Linked DNA regions of Homo sapiens. The protein of the gene in region 6 purifies or fractionates together with the protein of the main gene of each other region. This does not show direct contact. Each region holds a gene or a part of one and is shown on either strand. Other genes may lie near its edges. The genes, in order: CNTN1, PROCR, SPTBN4, GRTP1, GAP43, PCDHGC3 and CD109.

What was found.
Region 1: the proteins of PCDHGC3 (region 6) and CNTN1 purify together in Homo sapiens (affinity purification with mass spectrometry; 2 studies listed by BioGRID and IntAct, with this or other methods). This does not show direct contact.
Region 2: the proteins of PCDHGC3 (region 6) and PROCR purify together in Homo sapiens (affinity purification with mass spectrometry; one large-scale study listed by BioGRID and IntAct). This does not show direct contact.
Region 3: the proteins of PCDHGC3 (region 6) and SPTBN4 purify together in Homo sapiens (affinity purification with mass spectrometry; 2 studies listed by BioGRID and IntAct, with this or other methods). This does not show direct contact.
Region 4: the proteins of PCDHGC3 (region 6) and GRTP1 purify together in Homo sapiens (affinity purification with mass spectrometry; 2 studies listed by BioGRID and IntAct, with this or other methods). This does not show direct contact.
Region 5: the proteins of PCDHGC3 (region 6) and GAP43 purify together in Homo sapiens (affinity purification with mass spectrometry; 2 studies listed by BioGRID and IntAct, with this or other methods). This does not show direct contact.
Region 7: the proteins of PCDHGC3 (region 6) and CD109 purify together in Homo sapiens (affinity purification with mass spectrometry; one large-scale study listed by BioGRID and IntAct). This does not show direct contact.

What each region holds. Positions count from the first base shown.
Region 1 is NC_000012.12:41,024,439-41,027,938, reverse strand, and holds part of CNTN1 (contactin-1 isoform 1 precursor), read right to left. Parts: intron 2,790-3,500; coding exon 2,603-2,789; intron 83-2,602; coding exon 1-82. UniProt on the Homo sapiens protein: Contactins mediate cell surface interactions during nervous system development.
Region 2 is NC_000020.11:35,175,072-35,177,862, reverse strand, and holds the end of PROCR (endothelial protein C receptor precursor), read right to left. Parts: intron 1,696-2,791; coding exon 1,417-1,695; intron 1,166-1,416; coding exon 1,050-1,165; 3' UTR 501-1,049; downstream 1-500. UniProt on the Homo sapiens protein: Binds activated protein C. Enhances protein C activation by the thrombin-thrombomodulin complex; plays a role in the protein C pathway controlling blood coagulation.
Region 3 is NC_000019.10:40,465,777-40,469,800, forward strand, and holds the start of SPTBN4 (spectrin beta chain, non-erythrocytic 4), read left to right. Parts: upstream 1-1,224; 5' UTR 1,225-1,529; intron 1,530-1,947; exon of another isoform or gene 1,948-2,288; intron 2,289-4,024.
Region 4 is NC_000013.11:113,361,331-113,365,339, forward strand, and holds the start of GRTP1 (growth hormone-regulated TBC protein 1), read right to left. Parts: upstream 2,801-4,009; 5' UTR 2,722-2,800; coding exon 2,690-2,721; intron 2,581-2,689; coding exon 2,432-2,580; intron 539-2,431; exon of another isoform or gene 229-538; intron 1-228. UniProt on the Homo sapiens protein: May act as a GTPase-activating protein for Rab family protein(s).
Region 5 is NC_000003.12:115,630,010-115,633,509, reverse strand, and holds part of GAP43 (neuromodulin), read right to left. Parts: intron 1-3,500. UniProt on the Homo sapiens protein: This protein is associated with nerve growth. It is a major component of the motile 'growth cones' that form the tips of elongating axons. Plays a role in axonal and dendritic filopodia induction.
Region 6 is NC_000005.10:141,506,966-141,510,220, reverse strand, and holds part of PCDHGC3 (protocadherin gamma-C3 isoform 1 precursor), read right to left. Parts: intron 1-3,255. UniProt on the Homo sapiens protein: Potential calcium-dependent cell-adhesion protein. May be involved in the establishment and maintenance of specific neuronal connections in the brain.
Region 7 is NC_000006.12:73,825,203-73,828,813, reverse strand, and holds the end of CD109 (CD109 antigen isoform 1 preproprotein), read right to left. Parts: 3' UTR 501-3,611; downstream 1-500. UniProt on the Homo sapiens protein: Modulates negatively TGFB1 signaling in keratinocytes.

The DNA.
Region 1 (3,500 bases), on a different chromosome or scaffold from region 6:
AGTGCAACGACATGATCCCAGGTGATTATATAGCGTGAACCAGACCTTACTGAACTGATGATCCTTGGAGGCTGGCTAGGAGCTGTGAAAAGTAGTAATATGCAATCAGTGGTCACTATATCCAATCTCAATTCTGCATACTCTATTGCATCAGGTATTATAATGCTGATGATAATGACCACCACCATCTAGTTTTAATAAGTGTTTACTATATGCCAGGCACTATGCTAAGCACTTTACATCCATGAGTCCATTTAATGTACCCCATGGCCCTGTGAGCTAGGTAATATGACTTTTATTCTCTTCTCATCATGCTCCACTTGGGTTTCTTTCTCCACTAGTCTTTTGAAATTGCTATTTGCAAGGTCATCAATCACCTCCACTTGGTTAAATCTAATGTCACTTGATTATTCTTTTTTAAATTTAACATTTTTGGAGCATTTCACAGAATTGACCATCTTCTTTCTTGAATCTCTCATTTTTTCTTAAATTCAGATCTTAACAACTGGGTTTTCCTTCTACCTCATGGGCTGCTGCTTCCCATTATTCATGCTTAGCTGGCTCCCTCTGTCAACTTGTAACTGTTGGATGATTTAGGACTTCATCTATGTACCTTTTCTACTCTCTCTGTGGATCTTCCCTAAGTACTGACACTTAGGCCCATGGCTTTAAATATTCACAGTTCTGTCTCTAGCCCTAATCTCTCTTTCAACCTCTAGACATATGTGGCTATAGGTCTCTCTGTCTAGGCAGATATCAGCCTATTTCTACTTGAGTCTCTAAAAGATTTCTCAAATGTAATATAATCAAATGTAATACATTTTTCAAATGTAATATAATGTCGAGTATCCTCAAATCTTTCTCCAATGACTCTTTGCCATCGTCAGCAAATGGCACAACCAACCCCCTAGTTTCTCAAGCAGAAATTTGGTATTTAGTCTCTCATCCCACTCATTGCCAACATCCAAATTGGCAGCAAGTTGTCAACTCTGCCTACAGAAAACTTTCCACTTCTGTCTCCATTTTCACTTAGTGCTAGCCACTATCAATTCTCTCCTTGACTGCTGAAATAGTCTCCTAACTGGCTTTTCTGCTTCCACTGTTAACCCACCACAATCCATTTTCTGTACAGATGCCAGAATGACTTTTTTAAAAACAACATCATAAATTAGATATCACTCTCTGTTTTAAAATCTTTCAATGGCTTCTTATCATGTTTAGAAAGAACTCAAACTCATCACAATTACTTACAAGGTTCTCCGTAATTGGGCCCCAGAACACTTCCCCCTCCTTACTCAGAACCTATGCCCTGGACCCAGTGGCCTTTCCACACCTAAAATATTTTAAGTGCTCTTCACCTTAAGGTTTTGTACTACTTAGAGTGCAAAGAACCTTAAGGCTCTGCCTAAAGCTATTCACATAGTGGGTTCTTCTTATCATTTATCACTCAAATCATAGCTTAACTGGCATCTTCTCAGAGGCCTTTCCTGGCCACCCAATCAGAATTTCACTTTTATCTAAGTCACTTTACTTTTGTCTATTTATTCATTTTATTGCCCTGTCAGCTGCTTTAATCCCACTTATTTATTTGTCAGAGTTTGTGTTTGTTTGAAGTTTCTATCTCATTTCATTAGCTTGTAAACCATGCGAGAATAGCACCTTGGACTGGTTTGATCCCTTTTGTATCCTCACCATCAAGAATAGTGCTGAGCACACAGCATATTTTTGATGAATGAATAAATACATGAACAAATGGAAAAAGAACAAAAATGAATGCTCCTTTTACAAATTAGAAAACTGAGGTTTAAATAGGTAATTTATCTATTGTCATACATCTAGCAAGTGGCAGAGACAGATCTCAAACACATGTTAGACACCAAATTCTAGTTCTTGTCACTACATTCTGTCATCTCACTGGGAGAGTCTCTGTCCCAAAGTGAATTTCATAAATTTTCACACTCTAATGGTAATCACATCTTCAGATTCTTGAGACATTCCCTAGAGTCCTACATAAAAATTCTCCTTTTTACTTATTCCACTTGGGTTCAAGAACAGAGATATCAAAATGAACCCAGAGAGATTAGAATGACCAGAACGTGAGCAGGGATAGGCGGTCTTGTTTTATGAACCACCTAAAACATACAGTACTAGAACATACAGTAATAAGAGAGTAAGCATAATGCTACACACTTAACTTGCATTGCACTGTGCAATGACAGAGGTTTATAAATTAAAGCATGTAAAAATAAGCAGAATTTTAGTTTTCACATGCTGTTGATGTACTCCTATGAAAACAATGTTTAAATTAATAAGTACAGGGTAAAGACAAGTTAATGGCACAGAATTTGAGAGGACAGCCTTTACAAAAGGATAGTTCTCTAACTTTATTTCTATAATGGAATATTTAACGTGTGAGGGTATTTTTCACATTTTTTCATCATCTACAATAATTCACGTTTTAAGGGAAATCTTGTGTGGCTGTAAAGGATATTGAAAAATGTGCTCAGGTAGCTAGGTAGGAAATTTCCTTCAAATATATTCGTATCATGATTGAATCCAGTGGTAGTTTTTGACAAGTCTAAAAACAAAACGTGAGACTCACGTGCTTTCTTGGTGAAAGCCTCAATCATGTCACTTGGAGGTCCACACCCTGCACTATTGCAGGCCCCGACTTCTATAAAATACTGGGTGTCTGGCAGAAGGTTCTCGAGCCTGGCCGAGTACTCTTGGCTGGTGACTTGAACTCTGTTTGCAGCTTCTTCTTTGTCATGGGCAGCCCAATACCGAATCTGCAAACATTCAGGATGAGTTATATTTTGCCATGATTTAGAGTCTTCAGCTATGAAAAGTTCTCTTCAACTGGTTCTATTACCATTGGTGTTGGCTGATCATCATATTTTCAAATGTTTCTTAATGATATCTACCCTTTTATCAGCCTTAGAATATAGTAAAGCATACAGGGCAGGAATGACTAAAGATGCCAAAAGCGAATCAAAGTCTTACTTCATTGCCCAAAATTGTTTTACATTGACTAAAAAAAATAAAAAATAAAAAATTTAAAAATCCCAAAAACTTTGAAGCAGACTTACTTTCAAAATATAAAAGTGGTCTCCATTTGGAAGTATTTGTCACTATAATTTTTATCATTTATTTCCTGTTTTACTTCTGTTTGCATGATTTCAAACTTCTTCTGAGCCATTCTTAAAGCAGTTGGAGAGGAATATAATTTTGCTGGATAAAAATAGTTACTATGTGGCCTAGAATACGCTAAAGTAATACTTTCTTCTGCCTCCTTTCAGAAGTATCTAATGTTATTTCCTTTGAACCCATATAGAAGCTAGATATCAAAGAAATATATCTAATAACTGGATAAACTGTAGAAATTATTTACCCATAAAATAATTTTTAAAAAAGTTATCGATTTTTTCATTAGAAATGATTACTTTTGTCAAATAATTACAGGATTACTTTTCTCTTAAAGTTTAAGAAAAGTTATGGAT
Region 2 (2,791 bases), on a different chromosome or scaffold from region 6:
GCAAAAAGAGAGTTCTAGTCCGCAAATTTGCAGATACCATGTAGGGTGATGGTTTGACAATTAGAGGTTACTGGTGATCTCAGAGTAGTTTATAGAGAAGTCAGATTGCACTGGGTCTAAGAATGAGTGAGAAGACCAGGCGCAGTGGCTCACGTCTAATCCCAGCACTTGGGGAGGCCGAGGTAGGCGGATCACGAGGTCAGGATGGCCAACGTGGTGAAACCCCATCTCTACTAAAAATACAAAAATTAGCTGGGTGTGGTGGCATGCATCTGTAATCCCAGCTGCTTGGGAGGCTGAGGCAGGAGAATTGCTTGAACCGGGAGGCAGAGGTTGCAGTGAGCTGAGATCACACCATTGCACTCCAGCCTAGGCAACAGAGCAAGACTCTGTCTCAAAAAAAAAAAAAAAAAAAAAAAGAATGAGTGAGAAATAAGGAAGCAGAAGAAATGGGTATAGGTTACTTTTCCAGAAATTTTGCAAAGTGGAGGAGATAACAATGCCTTAAATATAAGAAATTTATTAATATTATTAATTGATTAATAATTGATCACTGCCATATGACTTGGATTTTACATTTCCACCACTTCTTCGTGTTACTTCTTTCTACCCTATTATATCAGCGTCCCATCCCAAGTCTGACACACCTGGAAGTATTGAATGTTGTATTTTGATTGTGGATGACTTGTTTATTTGGTTATATCTTTTGAACGCCTCAGGTGATTCTGTCTGTCTTTGGAGGATGGGCCATAGGCTTCCTGCCCCAACTCCATTATCTGTTTTCCACAAAGATAGATAAACATTCACTTATCAGACTAATTCAGCAAAGCATACACGTTCTTAGGTTCTTAGCAAACCAAGTACTTTGTCCACCTCTCCTCTCCATCTCCCCTCCCTCAAATCTTCAGTGGGCAGATGTGGGAGAAGAAAGGAGCTGTCACTCCAAACCTTCTGGTGTTTCAGTTGGGGAGTCTGGCTTCACAGTGAGCTGAAACTTTCCCTTGCCAGCCTCCATCAATCCAGCCCCTTCTGAGGGGGCTGGAGAGTAATTAACATCGCCGTCCACCTGTGCACAGGAAGATGCCTACAGCCACACCAGCAATGATGAAACTGCCCACCAGGACGCCCAGGACCAGCGAAGTGTAGGAGCGGCTTGTTTGGCTCCCTGCAGAACATGCAAAGAGTTAGCCCGAAGAATAGGCCCCCAAGGAGTCCATGATTTGAGTCAAACCCCAAAGCGTTTCTGCCCCAGAGGAAAGGGACCCGTTTACCAACTGACTGAAGCTGCGTGTGTTCTGTCCCAAACCCCCAGCTGTGGGCCTCTTGTTGCTCTAGGCATCCATCCTTCAGGTCCATCCATTTGTCTGGAACCCGCCCTCTCCCCAGCTTGCAGGCCTGGGCCCCGTCCCATCATACCTTTCGTGTTTTCCGCGGAAATATGTTTCTGCACATACTGCACACAGGTGTCCTCCAGGAATTCCCGCAGTTCATACCGAGTGCGGTTGTAGGCATTGAGCTGCTGCAGGGTGAAGGTGACCACTCCGGAGGTGACCTGGGTGTCTGCCTGCCACAAGGCTCTCTCCGGCCGGAAACTCACAAAGGAGCTCCCATTCACAGCCACTTCGAAGAAGACATGGGCTCTAGAGCCCTCGGGAGGCAGCTCACAGCCCAGGAAGCAGCGGATGGTCAGAGGAACTGTGGATAGACAGTCAGGGTCAGGGGACTGTGCAGAGAGGGTGCCAGGTGTGGGGCGAGGCCCACCAAGGGGAAAAGAACATGAGAAGGCAAGAGTCAGTGCTGTGAGGAGAGGGGAGTCTAGGTCAGGGAACTATGGGGAGAAGGGCCTGGGGCTGTGAGGAGGGGTTTGGGGTTAGCCTGTTAGAGGCTAAGAAAGAAGGGGCCAGGGACTGTGATGAAAAAAGGGAATTGTCAGGCCTTGTTCAACTGTAATAGAAAAAAAAAACAGGGGGTGAGGCTGGGGCAGGGGCGGCAGCTCACGCCTGTAATCCCAGCACTTTGGGAGGCCAGGCTTGTGGATCGCCTGAGGTCAGGAGTTCGAGACCAGCCTGGCCAACATGGCGAAACCCCGTCTCTACTAAAAATACAAAAAATTAGCCGGGCGTGGTGGCGGGTGCCTGTAGTCCCAGCTGCTTGGGAGGCTGAGGCAGGAGAATCGCTTGAACCCGGGAGGCGGAAGTTGCAGTGAGCCGAGATCGCGCCACTGCACTCCAGCCTGGACGACAGAGCAAGACTCCGTCTCAAAAAAAAAAAAAAAAAAAAAAAAGGGGGGTGGGGTGGGGGACTAGGAGAGAAAGGAGTTAAAGGCCATGATGGTGGGGGAAGGGGGACGGAGTGGTGCTTGGTGCTTTGAGAAAAGAAATTGGGGTCTTTGAGAAGAAGGAGTTAGGGTTGTGACGGGGAAGGAGTGGGGCTTTGAGAGAAGAACTTGGGGTCTTTGGGGGAAGAGTTCGGGTCATGAGTGGAGCTAAGAGCGAAGTCATCAGCTTGTATGAGAAGTGGCTGGAGGGTGGGGGGTGAAGTGCTGGGGGCTGTGGGAAGGGAAGGACGGAGATCTATGAAGAAAAGGAGTTGGAGGACTGTGAGGCGAGGGGTGAGGAGTTTTCTGGGGACCTTCGACGTCACGGTGTCAGGGCCTTCCAACAGGGTCTATCCCAAGAGGTTATGCCAGCAGGACGACCGCCCGAGTCGGGGCTTTCTTAGCGGGGACAACTGCCTCTCTCCAGCCCCCACCCAGCAATCTTCAAAGGCCCAGGCGCCACCGAGCTCCAGT
Region 3 (4,024 bases), on a different chromosome or scaffold from region 6:
AGCCAGGAACAACGGGGCGGAGCTGGCTCGAAGGGCCACGCCTCAGACTCTCCGCCCGCGGCTCAGGTCAAGGGGCGGGGCCTAACGCGGATGGGCGGGGCAGGCGTCAGCTTGCATTCGCTCACCGTCCAGCACCGCCCTCTCTGCGCGCCACTTAGACTGGAAGGCGGGGCCACAGAAGGCCACGCCTCCACATAGCAACAAATAGAGTGGACGGAGCCGAGATAACTTGTCACTCAGCGCCCTGCCTCCGCGCTCCACCTCCCGGAGAGGGGCGGGGCCAGGCGAGCCTCACCCACGGCCTCTCGTAGCTCACGCCCCCTCTCCCGGAGCCTGGAGCGGATCTGGGGCGCACTCTAAGCCCCAGGGCCTCCCAGAACCAGCAAGGGGAGAAAGTTAGGAGGACAGAGTGTGTGTGTGCACTTGGATGTAAGACACTGTGTCACGGCGTACCTATGCACTTATATGACCCTGTGTGACTCAGTGACCCGGAGGGCAAGCAGGACTGTGGGTGACACCTTGTGTCATCCTCTGAGTGTGATCCCGTGTTACAGTGTGACTACACGTGCGTGACACCACGTGTGGCAGGCATTGATTCTGTTCTTTTGTGACCTTGTGGTGACACCGTGGGTGACACTGCGTCAGCCTGTACGATAGGGTGTGGGACGTGTGAGGTGTGCTACATGGAAGCGTGAGACTAATTAGACTGTGACAGTGTGTGACACCACATGTCTCGTGTAAGGATGTGTGACACCGGGACCCCATTCGAGTGTGTGGCTGTGGGTGTCTGTGTTGAGCTGCTCATTGTGACCCCCTGTGACTATGATGTGTGAGGTGCGGCGGTGCAGCATGTGCGGGGCGACTGCTATGAAGGTTCGAGTGTGTAGAGTGTGTGACACTGTGGCTGTGAAGCTGTGCGTGATGTGTGGGCCTATGACACTGTTTGTGACTGCCGGGGAGTGTGCGGCTGTGTGTGACAGGTGCATTTGTGTGTGACGCCGCGTGGGCGGTGGTTACCCTATTGGATTTGTGTGGTGGTGGGTGACACCGTTCCAGTGTGGACGCCGCGTGTGACGGCGTGAGGGTGTGACCCCGTGAGACCCCACAGGAGGGAGTGACGGCGCGCAAGCGCGTGGATGCGGGGGTGAGTTTGTGCGCCGAGGCCCCCGCGAGTATGGCAGCGTGGCGAGCGTGACCCCGTGGGAGTGTGCAGCGCGTGACGCCGCCGTGCCCTCGCGAGTGCAGCCGTGCACCCCACGCCGCGGCCGGGTGTGACTGCGCGTGGGCCTCGGGCGGCGGGGCGCGGGGACCGCGGGCGGGAGGGGGTCCCGGGGGCGCGCTGAGCGCGGCGGCGGCGCGAGAGAGGGAGGCGCGGCGGCGCATGCGGATCTGGCTGAGCCGCGGGCCGGCGGGGCCGAGCTGAGCCGGGCTGGGCCGGGCCGGGCCGGGCCGGGCAGCGGACGCCGACAGGGAGGGCGGTCGGTCGCGGCGAGCAGCGGAGACAGCGACGCTGGCGGCCGCGGGCCCAGGTGAGCTGCTAGGGGGGCCGACAGCCCCTCCCCCAAGTATGTCCCCACCTGGCGAGCATCCCTCCTCCGCGCGCACGGGGCATGGCTGGAGCCCCGGGTCTCCCCGGCTGGAGGGAGGCAAAGGGTCGAGGGCAGGACGAGCCCACAACCCCCCCACCCGGTCTAGCTTCCGCGCCACGCGTGGGTCTTACCCCCAGGCCTTGTCCTTCCCAGGCCCCCTCCTTGGGCGCAGTGTCTGGACCGCAGGGAGAGAGGCGCGGCCTGGGAAGGGTTAAAGCCTCTGATGCCACCGCAGCCCAGCGCCCCACCAGCCTTTGCGGGGGGGGGGGGGTGTTGGGGGGAGGCTCGCAGGACACCCCTTCCCGGCTTCCCTATTACCTGCTCCCTTCCTTCCCATTCAATCGCGTTATGGCCAGAGCTGATCCTCGGCCTGGCCAGAGGGCTAACAGGAGTGCTAAGGGCCTCCCCATCTCTAAGTGTCTTCCACTGAAGAAAACAGCTGTAACCACCGTTTAACAGGGAGGGAAACTGAGGCACAGAAAGGCCAAGTTAAAGATACTCGGTTAAAGATACAGCAAGAATAAAGCGGAACTTGAACTCATTTCTGTCTGACTCCAGAAGAGGCAAATCGATTTGCTGAGATGTGTGAGGAAAAGATGAAGAATAATAGCAAGGAACATGTATCAAGGGCTTGCAGTGTACCAGATACCATGATCCCTGCATTAATAACTTACCTCTTCAAACACCGCTAAGAAACGGGTACGATTATCATTACTTTTTTTTTTTTTTGAGACGGAGTTTCACTCTTGTCACCCAAGTTGGAGTGTAATGGCGCGATCTTGGCTCACTGCAACCTCTGCCTCCCGACTTCAAGCAGTTCTCCTGCCTCAGCCTCCCAAGTAGCTGGGATTACGGGCATGAGCTACCATGCCTGGCTAATTTTGAATTTTTAGTAGACATGGGGTTTCACTATGTTGGTAAGGCTGGTCTCCAACTCTTGACCTCAGGTGACCCACCCACCTCCTTGGCCTCTCAAAGTGCTGGGATTATAGGCGTGAGCCACCGCCTGGCCTACCCTTTTGTGTGTGTGTGACAGAGTTTCATTCTGTCATTCAGGCTGGAGTGCAGTGAGTCAATCTCAGCTCACTGCAACCTCCATCCCCCAGGTTCAAGCGATTCTCCTGCCTCAGCCTCCCAAGTAACTGGGACTACAGACACGTGCCACCACGCCTGGCTAATTTTTGTATTTTTTTTAGTAAAGACCGGGTTTTGCCATGTTGGCCAGGCCGGTCTCGAATTCCTGGCCTCAAGTGATCCACCTACCTTGACCTCCCAAAGTGCTGAGATTATAAGCATGAGCCACCGTGCCGGGCCATCATTACTATTTTGCAGATGAACAAACTAAGGCCCAAAGAGTGGAAGTATTTCAGCCAAGGTCACACAGGTGGTAGGTAGCTGTGTGCTCACTTTCACTTTTCCATGGAAGGAGGGAAGAACAAAAATGGATTTGGGACTGGGCACAGTGGCTCACATGTGTAACCCCAGCACTTTGGGAAGTTGAAGTGGGCAAATAGCTTGAGCCCAGATGTTTGAGACCAGCCTGAGCAACATAGTGAGACCCCCTCTCTACAAAAAATACAAAAATTACCTGGTCATGGTGGAGCTTGCCTCTAGTCCCATCTACTCAGGAGGCTGAGGTGGGAGGATCGCGTGAGCACAAGAGTTGGAGGCTACAGGGAGCTATGATTGTGTCACTGCACTCTAGCCTGGGTGATAGAGCAATACCTTGTCTCAGAAAAAAAAAAAAGATTTCAATGTGTCCCCCTAAGGGACAATTTCCACTCTACTCACTCTACTGACCAAGACTTAGACCCTGCCTTCCTAGAATTCAGTGGGTTGGCAATTGTCTGGGTCTTTTGAGGACATTGATCTCCCAACTTCCTCCTTTGTTAGTCTTTTTTTTTTCCTTTTTCTTTTGAGAAGGAGTCTTACTCTGTCGCCCAGGCTAGAGTTTAGTGGCACAATCTCGGCTCACTACAACCTTCGCCTCCCGGTTTCAAGCAATTCTCCTGCCTCAGCCTCCTGAGTAGCTGGGATTACAGGCACCTGCAACCTTGCCCACCTAATTTTTGTGTTTTTAGTAGAGATGGGGTTTCACCATGTTGGCCAGGCTGGTCTTGAACTCCTGACCTCGTGATCCACCCGCCTCAGACTCCCAAAGTGCTAGGATTACAGGTGTGAGCCACCACGCCCAGCCGTTAGTCTTAGAATCAGGCCTGGGGGCCCAGAAGGTAAAGGAGATACATCTAATGTCACTTAACCCTTTAAATTTCTTCTCTTTTTTTTTGTTTTTTTTGAGATGGAGTCTCACTCTCTCACCCAGGCTAGAGTGCAGTGGTGCGATCTCGGCTCACTGCGACCTCCGCCTCCTGGGTTCAAGCAATTCTCCTGTCTCAGCCTCCTGAGTAGCTGGGATTACAGGCATGTACCACCAT
Region 4 (4,009 bases), on a different chromosome or scaffold from region 6:
TTCCCTGCTCTTCCCAGAACCCCCTCCCAAGTCCATATTGGAAAGTGGGGGCAATGTGCTGAGTGGTTCCCTAAAAAGGAAAATATGGAACCCAAGTTAGCAGCTCCTGGTCGAAGAAAAGGACAGCAATAGGACAGACCCAAATGGCAAAGGCAAAGACGGGAGAATGACTGTGCAGTTGTGTTTTCTGTAAAAACAAAAATTTATGCACAACCATACATCTTTCAGATTCTCCGCTGTAACCAACCTCCAGGTCACAGCCACAGGACTTCCCACGGACTTCCCCTGCTCTTAAAGCAAACTGCAGAACCAAGCGTGGACTTCTGCTCCTGAGGGGGACGGAAGGACAGTCCCCTGCGGTCATCTCTATAGGAGATGGGGGCCATGGGTGGGAGAGAAACTCCCTGTTGCACTTTGTAGCCCTCAGTATGATTAAAGTGTTTACCATGTACATAAATTATGCTTTTTAAGTTCACATGTCTTATATACTTTTACGTTACTTTTTAAAATTAAAAGACAGTTAACTTTTAAGAATAAATCAGGCGCAGTGGCTCATGCCTGTAATCCCAGCATTTTGGGAGGCCAACGTGGGCAGATCCCTTGAGGTCAGGAGTTTGAGACCAGCCTGGCCAATATGGTAAAACCCATCTCTACTAAAAAATAGAAAAATTAGCCTGGCGTGGTGGTAGGTGCCTGTAATCCCAGCTACTTGGGAGGCTGAGGCAGGAAAATCGCTTGAACCCAGGAGGCAGAGGTTGCAATGAGCTGAAATCATGCCACTGCACTCTAGCCTGGGCGACAGAGTGAGACTCCGTCTCAAAATAAAAAAAATAAGAAAATAAAAAATAAATTAGCCAGGTGTAGTGGTGTGCACCTGTAATCCCAGCTACTCAGGAGGCTGAGGCAGGAGAATCACTTGAACCCAGGAGGTGGAGGTTGCAGTCAGCTGAGATCGCACCACTGCACTCCAGCCTGGGCGACAGAGTGAGACTCTGTCTCAAAAATAAATAAATCAAAAAGAATAAATGAAAAGGAAAAATAAAGACACACGTTCCACTGGAAACATGTGAACATGCAGAGGCCACAGGGATGGGACATGATGCATTCGTGGGAAGCATATAGGATATTAACTTCCATCTCTATAAAAAATTTAAAAATTAGCCAGGAGTGGTGGCCACACCAGTGGTCCCAGCTATGCGGGAGGCTGAGAGGGGAGGATGGCTGGAGCCCAGGAGGTCAAGGCTACAGTGAGTGGTGATTGTGCCACTGCACTCAGAGGGATACCCTGTCTCAAATAAATAAATAAAAGCAAAAGTTGATCTTGTCACCCCCTGCCTGGAAAACCTTTAACAGTTGGCTTCTCTGTGCCTGGCCGTGGTCACCACACACCTCCGACCCTCCGCCCAGGTGCAGGGCCCCTGGTTTCATCTCTGTCCTTCCCCACCAGGTCCCTACTGCTCGGTCCCTGGAAGCCCAGCTGCCATTCACATCCCCCTTCTCAGGAAGCCCCCAGGACTCCCCTTTGACCCCACTTCTCTGAGTTCCTAGCTCCAGGGCACACTCCCACCAAGCCCTCACCCCAGGCAGACACTTCATTCATTCACTGAACACACAGGGAAGTCGCCTGGCACTGCCCCAGGTTCTGAGGACTGAGCAGTGAATGAAAAATCCGTTGCAGGGAGGAAGGGTTTTTGACTCCAGCAGGGGCTGTGCTGGGAAAGGCAGAAATGAGGAGGTGCCCTCCGCACAGGGAAGCCTGGGGCGCCCCGGAGGAGGGGGCCCTGCAGCTAACCCCGAGGCGGGCGGGCGGTCAGGCCGGTGCTCACCGCAGCAGTAGGAGGCCTGGGGTCGCGGAGGAGCGGCAGGTCGAGCAGGGCCCTGTGGGTCCCGTCACAAGGACGGAGTCTCGCTCTGTCGCCCAGGCTGGAGTGCAATGGCGCAATCTCGGCTCACTGCAACCTCCGCCTACTGGGTTCAAGCGATTCTCCTGCCTCAGCCTCCAGAGTAGCTGGGACTACAGGCAGGAGCCACCACGCCCGGCTAATTTTGTATTTTTAGTAGAGACGGGGTTTCACCATGTTGGTCAGGCTGGTCTCAAACTCCTGACCTCGTGATCCGCCCGCCTCGGCCTCCCAAAGCGCTGGGATTACAGGCGTGAGCCACCGCGCCCGGCATGGATCGAGTTTTGATCCATCCCGATATGGCTCCCTGCTGGGAGGGACGGGTCTCCTTCGCGTCCGACCCGCCGGCCCATCTCAAAGCGGGAAAACCGGTCCCTGCGGCTGCCCTAGCTCGGAGCCCGCAGCTTCGTCCCGACCTGCCCGGAAAGGTTCCTCCCCCTCCCTCCGCTCCGGGAGCCCGGACTTTGCCCGGCCCGTCCCAGCCCAACCCACCTGCGCCCTCGGGACCCACCTGCGCCCCCGGGACCCACCTGTCCGGCTCCTGGGGACGCCCCCGCCCTGCAGCAGCCGGGACCATTTGATCGCCCTGCGGGTGAGCGTGACCAGGTAGCTGGAGAAAAACTTCTCGTAGGCGGCGTCGTCGAAGTCCTCAGGCCGCTCGAATCCGTACGGGTCGATCCTGCAAAACCGAGAGAAGGAGGCCGGCGTCCCCGAAGTTTCCTCTGGGGGGTCGCGGGCCCGCGCGGGGACCGCAGCCGCCGGGGACGCCCGCACCCCGCGCCACACACCTGGGGACCCGCGAGCGCTCGGCGGGCTGCATGCGGGGAGGGAGGCGCGCACCGAGCGAGGCCAGCGGGTCCCAAGTTCGCCTCCCGGCTCCGGGGCGCTTAAGTCCTTCCGGCGGGACCGCGGGCGCGTGGGGGCGGGGCGGGGAGCGGAGAGGGGCGGGGCTGGAGGCGGGGGCGGGGGGGGGCAGGGCGGGGGGAGGGGCGGCTGGGGGCGGGGAGGACTTGGGGAGAGAGGAGGGGCAGGAGCGGGGGAGGGGCAGGGGAGCACCCAGGGCGGGGGAGGGGCGGGGCTGGGGGCGGGAGGACCTGGGGAGAGAGGAGGGGCAGGAGCGGGTGAGGGGCGGGGGAGGGCCGGGGGAGGGGCAGGGGAGCACCCAGGGCGGGGGAGGGGCGGGGCTGGGGGGGCGGGAGGACTTGGGGAGAGAGGAGGGTGGGGGCGGGGCGGGGCCTGCTCCCGGGGCTTCCGAGGCCGCGGCGTCCCGCGGGCAGAATCGGGGGCGCCTCCCGCAGAACCCCCGCGGCCTGGACCCGGGTGAGAGGAGCTTCTTCTGCGATTCCTTCAAACCTCAGTGCCTGGCCGACCCGACTCTGACACCTGACTCCTATTTTTATTTTATTTTTTATTTTCTCCGCTGCATTTCAAGGCCGAGACCAACACACAAATGAGAAGCCCCCAGGGGCGCCCGCCCGTTCCTGCCCCCCCAAACCAGGGACCGGGGTCCCCCCACCGGCGAGCCAGGCCTGGGAGAATCCGGGGCAGCTCTGGTTCCGAACGGCTTCTTCTCGGTCCGCATCCAATGACATTGTCCTGAGATTTCAGCTGCTTTTCGTGTCCGGGAGGCCCCGGAAATTTGCCAGAACTGCAGATTTTGAATTTTGCTCTGGCGACGTGGCAAAGGGGAGCCCCCAGACGTGAGGCGCTGGGGCGACCTCGCCCTGGGTCCCCCAGGGGTCTGGAGCGGGGGCTCCTCCGACAGGCCTCTCCCCGCCTGTAATTTAGGCCCAGGGCGACCTGGACAGGCCCCAGGAGGAGGCCGTCCCCGGACTCCAGACGCACTTTCCTGTGAGAAGCAGCCCGGCCTCGTCTGGGTGAGGCGAGGATCACAGGCTCAGCGTCCCCTGCGCGTCCGTCAGGGCCTTTCGGAACCAACTTGGGACCTTCCCATGGGTGTTTCCGGAATGTTCCATGCGAGCGCCACCCAGGAGCCTGGTCAGCAGCGTGTGGAACGGACCGGTCCCTAAGTGCGGACTCCCGCCTCTGCCTTTCACCCTTCTCCAGCCCTTGCAAGACCGGGGGGCGGGGTGGGGGTCAGTGCCCAG
Region 5 (3,500 bases), on a different chromosome or scaffold from region 6:
ACCACACTTGAGATAAGTTCCTTCTGACTCGGGTAGCTAACCCACATGTGGACTATGTGGACATATAGGTATATATGCAGGAGACTAATTCTCAACCAACTTACCCTCTCACTAGATTTACAAGTGTGGGCTTACCAAAATTGTCTCTAACCTATGTCACCCAGCCCTTTTTCCAGTCAGAGATATCGGCCCTGTGGCAGTTGCTAGGTGACCCAAGCAGGACCAATAAAATTCATTCATCCTCATTCTCTCTCTCTCTGTCTCTCTCCCTCTGTCCCTCTCTCCCTTTGTCTGTCTCTCTCTTATCTCTCTCTTTCTCTCTCATCATTTAAAATTTGAATTGTAGCTGGGATTATTAATAACTGAGTCTTTTTTGATGCAGGGCCCCAGAAAGAGTTTATGAATTCCTGTTATTGAAATTCTACCCTGGTTCCCATAGGCTTCGTTGTTCAACTTACTAATTTCATATGATCGCTGCTTTTTTTCTTTTTCCAATAAATTCCTTTTATAGACTCTTAAAGTTGGTTTTGGATACTTGTTCCCAATCAAAAAACGCATATATAATAGAAGTAGTGTGTTCTGAGGCAGAAGAAGAAAGAAACAGGGAGAAAGGGATGTAGCTAGAGTGAAAGTTTAAAGGTGATACCATTAACCAAATATAAATATAATTAAAGAAATCATTATTTCCTTCTGGACACCAGTTTATTTTCAAATTTCTAGTTAACACACCTTTCTATTGCAGTCTACATGAGCCCTTTGTATAAAAGTATTTTGGGAAAATATGTACAATACTAATTTTTTTATGCTAAACTTTTGGCTTCTAGGAAAAATAGGATTTCTTAGACTAACTTGATCCAGTTATTATACTTTAAAGTATTTCTAAATGTTATCCATATGTTTAAAAACTCAGTTTCTTTGGTTTGTAGAATTCTGTGCTTATAGGAGAATCTGTTAAATTTTGTTGTTTTAAAGTGGTAATTTATCCCAGTCATGCCCAGGGACACAGAAGAACTATAATGTCCTTTGTGGAGATCTTGAGGGCTCAAAAGATTATGGCATTTAGAGTTGAGTTTGGAAAGGTTTAGGATTACATATCACCTCTCTAATCAAGGTTTATTCCTGTTGTATTGAGGAGCCCTGAAGTCAGGTTGTGGAAATGGTGATCAAGGGATCATCTTTGAAATGTGCTTCCCCCAACCAAACTGTATCTACATTTTCAGTCTCCCAACCAGCCCTGCATTTTCTCTCCACTCTTCTGCCTGACTGGGCCCTCATGTGATGGATGTGAGCACAGCATGCCTGGCCATCTTAGTGCTGAGAACCCAGTTTGGAGGTGAAGTGGGGGTGGGTATAGAGGGGGAGGCAGCAAACTTAGCAAATGGAGAAGAAAAGAGATCTAAATGTGAGGAAAAGACTAAAACAGAAAAAGATAAAAAGAAAAACAGTGGGTATTTCTAATGCATTTGAAGTGATCCTTGGGTCTTGTAACACTTTGAATATTGGCTTATCTAAATTCTGTCACTGAAGTTTTCAAAGGAAATAATAAACAGATACTATGTTCCCATCCATTAGCATGGTTAATATTTACTCTGAGCCGTGCCCGGCTCATGCCTGTAATCCCAACACTTTGAGAGGCCGAGGTGGGTGGATCACTTGAGCTCAGCAGTTCAAGACCAGCCTGGGCAACATGGTGAAACCTTGTCTCTACTAAAAATTCAAAAGTGAGCCAGGCGTGGTGGCATGCAACTGTAGTCCCAGCTACTTGAGAGGCTGAGACAGGAGAATTGCTTGAACCTGGGAGGCGGAGGTTGCAGTGAGTCGAGATCACACCACTGCACTCCAGTCTGGATGGCAGCAAGACTCCATCTCAAAAAACAAACAAACAAAAAATTTACTCTGTAGAGTATGGGAATCAGGTGGAAATGGGGAATGTGTGTATTCTATACAGAGAGCAAGAGTACTTCTTGTTTGCTTAGAGCCATGAATACTTTAGTGCTCGATCTATGAAATTCCTTAATTAATAATACTTACATTTCAAAAACACATTGTTTGCAAAACACTTTTATTGTTATCTCTTTATTTGAGACTCACACCAACCTAATTTTAAGAAGAAAAGGTAAGACAGGATTTGGAGGTTCTTTTTATGTACCCACTACACAGATGAATATACTAGGCTCAGAAAGGTTAAATTACTTACCCAACATCACATGACAAGCAATTGGCAGAACCAGGTCTAGAACCCAGGGAAAGGATTTATTCCACTACAAAGACATGAAACAGGACATTAAACAAACAACATCTAAGAAAATAAGATCTGTAAATAATTAAGGATAGGAAATCTGGAAGATCACATTCCCGTGCTAAACCTGAATGAAATGACTGCAAGTGTGTCTCTCTGATCTAAGCAGACAGGAGAGGGAATTGAACTTTGACTACATCCACCTTGTGAGGGGGACCAATAGAGCTGAGCTTGCATTTACACAAAGCCCACGCTGAATAAGTAATCAGAAATGGTCGTCTGTCCCAGAACATCTCCCCTAATGACCCATCATGATGCTCCTTCCCTTCCTACATTTATTACTTCAACAAATATTTATTGAGAATCTAAGATGTGCCAGACATAGCTTAAAATACCTGTTTTGTCTATAAGTACTTTTTAGAAAGTTTGAAGAAACACACTTTTTCTTAAAGTTCTCCTTCCATAGCCTCACCCACTAAACACTAACATGAACTGGTATTACTTAATCAGAAAAACTCTACCTGGGTCTGACAGGAGGAGAAAATAATAGAAAAACTCAATGCCAAAGAGATTGGGAGCAGTAAGCAAGATATCAAGTGAGGGTATGGCAATTGACAAATACTACTGAACCTTACCAGTTGAAGACAAACTTCACTTACAAATTATTTAGTCTTTCTGCTGTTCTCAAGGACATGCCAATTCAGTCAGAGAAAATACACTACTTAGCGTCTGGCAAGAGTGTTTTCATGGAAAACAGTGGTTGCAATTTGTTCCATGCTGGGCACAATAGGACTACTTCAGAACCCAAGTCCCTTCAGTCTATTTAAACCTAAGAAAAATCCAATTCATCTGGTACTAACATTCCTTTAACAGTCATTTGAGGGACTACTTACCATTCACCCTCCCTATACCTCCAATCATGATTTATCTTTGTGAAATATTATTATGTGGATACTTCAGACGGAAGAAAAGAAATCCAAATGAAGGTAAAATTAATTTTTGAGCACACACACCTAAGCACAGGCCAGCACTACATGCATTTAAAGAAAAAAATATTGCTACTCTTAGTTGATTTATTTCATGGATCACACAGATTGATTTACGGTCTATTTGTAAGAGTTGTGAAGCAAAGCAGTGAGTGCAAGTACTTGGAGCCTCAAAGTAAGGGCATGTGAAGATCCAGAGTTGTGGTAACCAGAGAGGGTGGGGCTGTAATGTTGGTTGTTGGACGAGGAGGACATGGAGGGGAGATAGTGCCAGC
Region 6 (3,255 bases):
GCTCACTGCAACCTCTGCCTCCTGGGCTCAAGTGATTCTCCTGCCTCAACCTCCTGAGTAGCTGAGATTACAGGTGCACACCACTAGCCCAGCTAATTTTTGTATTTCAAAACAGCATTTGAGCACCTACTGTGTGCCAGGCACTCTGCTGGATGCTTCACATGCACAATCACTTTTAACCTCTACATAACAGCCCAGCCAGCTATGTGGTATGACCCTCATTTTACAGATGAGGGAACCAAGTGTTAGAAGGACCAAGGCCATACCCGGTAGCATTTGTTAGAGGGGCATTCAGGCCCAAGTGTACCTAAGCGCATGCTGGAAGGGACAGTCAGTCACCATCACCACCAGCAGCTTGGACCTTATCCCTGTTCTGAGTGAATGGGAGGTAGAGAGAAGATGGAGAAGAGCTCGGCTCTATGAAGCTGAGGAGATGATGATCTCGGGGACTAGACATCTCAGGGACACTTTAGGCACAGGCTCAGAGTGCCACAGCTAGGTGACATCAGACAGCACCTCCAGTCCAACGTCCCACTGTACAGAAGAAGAAACTGGGGCCCAGAGAAGTCCACACTCTGGCCCTGGCTCAGCATCACCCAGGAACTTGTTTAGAATGCAGCCTCTCGGAATTGCCAGCTGATTTGTACGCACTGTGAAGGCTGCTGTGAGGACTAAATGAGATGGTGCTTCATCCTGTGCAATACATCATCAACACCGTCACATCCAGCATGCCATCACCTCTACCCCTCACCTGCCCTGACTGGGTCGGGGGTGGGAGAGGAGGAAACAAGAGTTTGACTCATTGGGGCTCGCTGCTGGAGGCCCTGAGATCCTCTGTGGTTAGGAGACAGTTAAAACCTCAGGGATGCCCAGGCCAGCCCAGGCCCAGCTGGCAGTAGAGCTTCTCTCCCAGCCTCCCTCTGCCTCCACCCTGGACCCTGGGAGCGGGTAGCGAGAGTGACTAAAGCCGGAGAGGCTGAGTAATCCTGGGACATCAACCAGGGATTGAGAAATAGAGAGACAGGAAATATTTTCAAGCCGGCATAAGAGGAGGAGGGCACACGGGAGGGGAGAGCCGGGATGCGCCTCGGTTTTTCTCTTCACGCACCAGCGCTCAGGTTTCTACAGCCCCCATTTCATGTCGCAAATCCCCGGAGCTGAGAGCTTTCTGGGGGCGGGGGAGAGGGGTTGAGTGGGAGGGAGCAGCTGCCCACTTCCTCCTCTCCTACCCCAGCTGGCCCCCACCCCCAGCCCTTTCATTCCGCTGACATTTCTCTGTTTTCCCTAATTAACTCCAAAAGGAAGCCAGATCCGCCACCGCCCCGCCCCCTCCCCTCCAGCCGTCAGCCTCTTCAGCCTTTCCCAGCCTGGGAATGGAAGGGGTAGGGGAGGGGGGCCCAGATCTGGCTTCAAAGAGCCAGGATTCCAGAGTGATTTAGGGGCTAGAGGGGGGACCTCAGAGGCGCCAGAGAAAGAGCGGGGTGGGGGGTGTAGTCTCCCTGCACACAGAAAAGAATGAGGAGGAACACGGAGAAGCAGGGAGAAGGGAGGCAGAGACAGAATGACAGGAAGGGCCTGACGGAGTAGCTAGAAGCTCGGCCCACCCACGTCCTATGTGCACCCAAGATCTCTGAGTAGCACCCCGAGTGGGTGCAAGTGACAAAGCCATCCCCCGCCCACCTCGTGGGGGGTGCCCTGAGGTTGGGCTGGACCAGGAGGGAGAGAAGATATGGAAATCCAGAATGTAAAAGAAAGAGAATATTTGCTCTGCTCTGCCACTAAGGAACTGTGTGAGCTTGGTCAAGTCTCTGCGTGGCTCAAGCCTGTTTTCCCATCTATAAATCTGAGGGGAAGAAGTTGGATTGCCAGCTTTGACTTTCTGTAGAGTCAGTTCTCCAGTGCCCCTCCCTCTACACCCCACTCCCCCCAAGGCCCACCTTGGTCAAGGACCGGGATTTTCTCTTGGTCCCAGGAGAGGCAGACTTAGGAGAGCCTCAAGAAGCTGGACATCTTCTGGCCTGGACGAGGTGGGGGTGATGCCTTCTCTCCTGTGCCAGCCTCTACTCAGGGAAACTCAGCCCCCAGCTCCCTGACCTCCCTCTGTCCTCTTAACCTACCCCATCCCAGGGCCAAGGCAGCAACTCCAGAGTAGCCCAAGGAGGCTGATTAGCTGGAACACAGCTGGCTGAGCTGCAAACCGCAGCCTCCTTGAGAGCATCCCTCCCCGCAGATGTTTATTTTAAAAGCCTCCTCCCAAGTGTCGGTTTTTACTCTCCCTCTTACTTAACCCCTCTCAGCAGCCCCACAGGCCTGGCTGGGCTGGACTTCAGGAACCTCTCTGGTTTCAGGGCTAGGAAGCGGGTGTGAAAGTGAGAGCAGGGCCTGACCCACCACCTCCACCCCCAGGGTCCGTTCCCCAGGGCGCAGGCTTAGACGAGGGTCAGGCCCTGTGTGGGCCAAAGGTGGGAGGCCTTGACAGGGGAACGAGCTGCATGACTTGCTTGGAGGGTTTGGGGCCATAAATACTGATTTCATTTCTGTTTTTAACATCTGGATTTAGGCTAAAAAGCTGCTTCCTGGCCTCAGGGCGCAAGGCCACAACAGCTAAATATACCTGTTTATTTCCCTCAAGAGGCCAACTTGGCATCTCCTCAGACCCAGCCGCCTGCCACTTTCATACTCAGTCTCTGGCCTCTCTGGAATCATAGCCCCACCAGACCTGGGACAGCTCTGCCTCAGGAGGCCAGCAGTCCCTGCCACCTCTCTCTCTGTCCTTCCGTCAGCTGTAGGCCTGGCCCCACTTAACCTCACAGACATCTGGGGTAGAGTTGCCAGATTTAGTAAATAAAAGTACAGGGCTCCCAGTTAAATTTGAATTTCAGGTAAACAATGAGCATTTTTTTTTTTAGTACATTATGTCTCATGCAACATTTGAGACTGACTTATGCTGAAATAGTACTTGCTGTTTATCTGACATTCAACTGTAACTGGGCATCCTGTATTTTATCTGGCAACCCTGATCTGGAAGAATAAAGCAGAGCTCGAGGAAGAGGACAGCCTCTCATCCTGCTCAGGTAATAGAGAAGCCGAGGCTGGATCCAAAGGCAGCCATGGTCCCTATAGTAGAAAGAGCATAAACTTAGGAGTTGAGCCAGGTTAGAACCTCAGCTTGGCAGCTCAAAACTGAGGACCCTGGGGCAAGTGCCTTCTCGGTTCTCTCATCTGTCGAGTGTGAGAAATCAGACCTGCCTTGCA
Region 7 (3,611 bases), on a different chromosome or scaffold from region 6:
AAAAAATGTACAGACATTGGCAAATGGTTGCTGAAGGCAAAATCACTTCCAGTTGAGAACCCCCGATTGTGAAATGCTATCTTTAGTATTTCACAGAAGCCCAGAAAATTCATGGCAACAGAAATATTAAATAACACTGGGTGGGAATTAAGAAAATGTACATGAAATCTTATGTTCTGGCTGAGACAATCTGTGCCTCCATTTTCCTGTGTGTATAAAAACTATGTGTTCTATATACTTCTATATAATTTCCAGAGATTAAGTGAGTGCTCACCTCACATTAATTTTTTTAATTTGTGTATTACTTACCTCTCCACTGAGCGGGGAGGTAAAGGAGGCTGGTAATCAAATTTCTTCAACTTCATTATGTTGCTACCTTGCAACACAATAATCCCTACTCTAAGCTAGCCTCAAATATCCTGTTTCTCATAAATAAGCTTAAATAAGGGAGGTGTGCTATAGACATGCTTTATGCTAAAATAAAAAGAACACATAATAAATAGATGAGAATTTAAGCTTTTATTAATAAATCATGATTTTCTATTGAATACATAATAAAGTACAATTAACAATAACATAACATTACAACATTAAAAATTAAAACTTTCAGAATCACCTTGATCAATATATAAAGCTTTAGTTCCTTATTTCAACAGTGTTCTTCTCATATGCAAAACAGCTTCCCAAAATAAGAGATTCGTGAATGAAATTTTATAAAGCTTCCTGTGTACCAAAGAGATTGACTCCACATCAACTGTCCCCTACTGAAAATCCAAACCATACAGGCTTGAAGGACCAGAACTGAGCCACATTCTATTAAAGTTATCAAAGATAAAATCTTAAAGATCTACAAATGGAACATGGAACTACCTTCTACCACCAATTCAATACACTGGGCAAACGTGGTAAATCTTGGCCTCAAGACAACATAAGATAGAATGATTCTTAAATATGTAGCAACAGATATATCAATATTATCCCTATTACAGAGACACATGTATACCAATTTATAACTGTTCTTTGCAGTAAGAAACTCAGAAATCATCTAGGAAATATCTATTTTCCTATGTTACAACTGAAATGAAAATGACAACATATTTTGTAAAATGATGCAATGTGGTATTGTCTTTTGATGAGACATGAAAACACAACTCACTGGCTAGAAATAGTTGTAAAACAAGCCTACTCTCACTGATATATACTTACTTTAAAAGTTACACTTACTTCTTAGTTTTCTGAAGAAAGAAGGATAATGGTCCTCTATTCAAAGTAGTAATAAAAATAATTGCACCTCAAATTACTCCCAGTGTAACATAAGATATTTAATATTAACATAAATATCATTTGCATAGATGATAGAAAAATTCTAATTTCTTAAAAGTGCTATGCCTTACTGGAATTTGAAGACAAAAAAAAAAGTGAGGAATACACTCTTCTGCCTGTCCGACAGAAGCCTCTACCGAGAACGTAAAAGGTTCTGAAACTCATCTATGAATGAGTCCACTTACTATAAGTGTCTTAAATTTACAATGCGCAAAAAACCAATGCACCCAAGAATACATCATGGCACCTTGCCCCATGGTAACCACTTGGCAGACTCAAATAATAACTACCCTCATAGGGAGAAATCTTGCCAAGGGAGAATTTACAACATATTTTTAGAAAGAAATGAGTATTCAATCATTCAATAAAGCAAATCAGAAAAAGTAAGGTTGTGAAAAGAACTCCAGATTATATGCCAGCAGGTTAATAAAATAATTCTTTTTTAAAAAATGACAAAGAAAAATCATAGTTCCAATTTTTTACTTAATGTCTTGAGTCTGCCAGACATGTCAAATGAAATAATTGAATTATGTAAAAATAAAAATAGTTGGTATTATATTGACAGACTACTTATAAATATGTTTAGCATAAATAGAAATTAAAGCTAAATATGTCTTTTTCTAAAAAAAAAAAAAAAATTATACCTAGGCTCAAAAGAATAGGAGCAGGGAGAGTTATGCTATCTACAATTCTGAATATTTCCACGTGCAGGATACAGTATTACATATGTAAGTAACATCTCCTAGGTAACAGAAATATATCTGGATTCTACATAAGCAAAACACTCCTCAGATTATAATATATAATCCAAAATACTAAACCAAAGATACTATTTTTACAATGTTTTGAAAAACAAAGTACAATAGCACAACACAATAAAAGGAAGCATTTCATTGACCAGACATATTTTAATGGGCTTGAATTTCTTTTTTAAAACTATAACTAAATGTAATAAGATGGTGGAACCAAATATAAAAATGTTATTCTGTCCTAGAATTGTTTGGCTACTAGGTTTTCCCAACATTCAGTCTCTGGAAGCATCGGCCAGTCAGAAAGAGAGGTAAGATATGCTGGTGTTTTACTAAGGTTCCCAGTGAGTGGAAAAGAAGGGGGACTTTAGTTCATACCAGTAAATGACATTGACAGTATTCTAAATGGAAGAGCTTCAGCATAAGGAATCTTAATGGTAAAATGAGTTTTTTAATATTATTACTCATAGCATGTGAAGAAAATAATTTATACTAGTAATTATTACTACTACATATACTCCTTTTCTCCTTATGCCTGTGGTATTTTAATCACTTTTAGTCCAAGCCCACTGCTTGTAGCAGAGCAAGTTCTCTAAGGGAAGTATGAAGGAAGAAGTGGCCGGGACATCTGCACAGCCCCATGCACCAGGAGACAGTGCTAGCTAACCCTTTATGTTCCTTCTCATTGTTGTCCTCTTCATTTTTAATAAACTTACAATAAAAAGAGATGAGTTACAAGGTGACTTTTTTGTTTTTTGTTTTTTGAGACAGAATCTCACTCTGTCCCCCAGGCTGGAGTGCAGTGGCGTGATCTCGGCTCACTGCAACCTCTGTCTCTCAGGTTCAAGTGATTCTCCTGCCTCAGCCTCCCGAGTAGGTGGGACTACAGGTGCATGCCACCACGCCTGGCTAAATTTTGTATTTTTAGTAGGGACGGGGTTTCACCATATTGGCCAGGCTGGTCTCAAACTCCTAACCTTGTGATTCACCCGCCTCAGCCTCCCAGAGTGCTGGGATTACAGGCATGAGCCACTGCGCCTGGCCTACGAGGTGACCTTTAACTTGAAAACATGGAGTTCTTCACCAAAAAAGTATTCAAATGATAGTTTTTAAACAAGGAAATATGGTCTAAAAAAGATACAACCTGTCTTCCAATGGCCTTTCCATTCTAGTGTTTCCTAATATATTACACTAGAAGTTAACTATAAATTATATACTTTAAAATATAAAGTATTGATTGTCAGTATAAGGTTCCCAGGCCAGGAAAGAGGAGGGGAAAGTCCTTTGCCAAGACCCTCCCCCAATTTCTTTGTAAGATGATTTCACCTTTAAAGAACTCCCAGAGAGTAAAGGGCAAAAACACGTTTACAAGGAGGCCCCAACATTACAAGTGCCTGTTTTAGAACAGATTGTGTCAGAGGTGTAAGAGATCTAGAAACTTTTCCCCACTTAAGAAAAAAAGGCAAGAAAATTAAGTATTTGATACTTAACTGCCCTCTTCATAGACCACTGTCTGGGGATCTATTTTCTATGTACAGG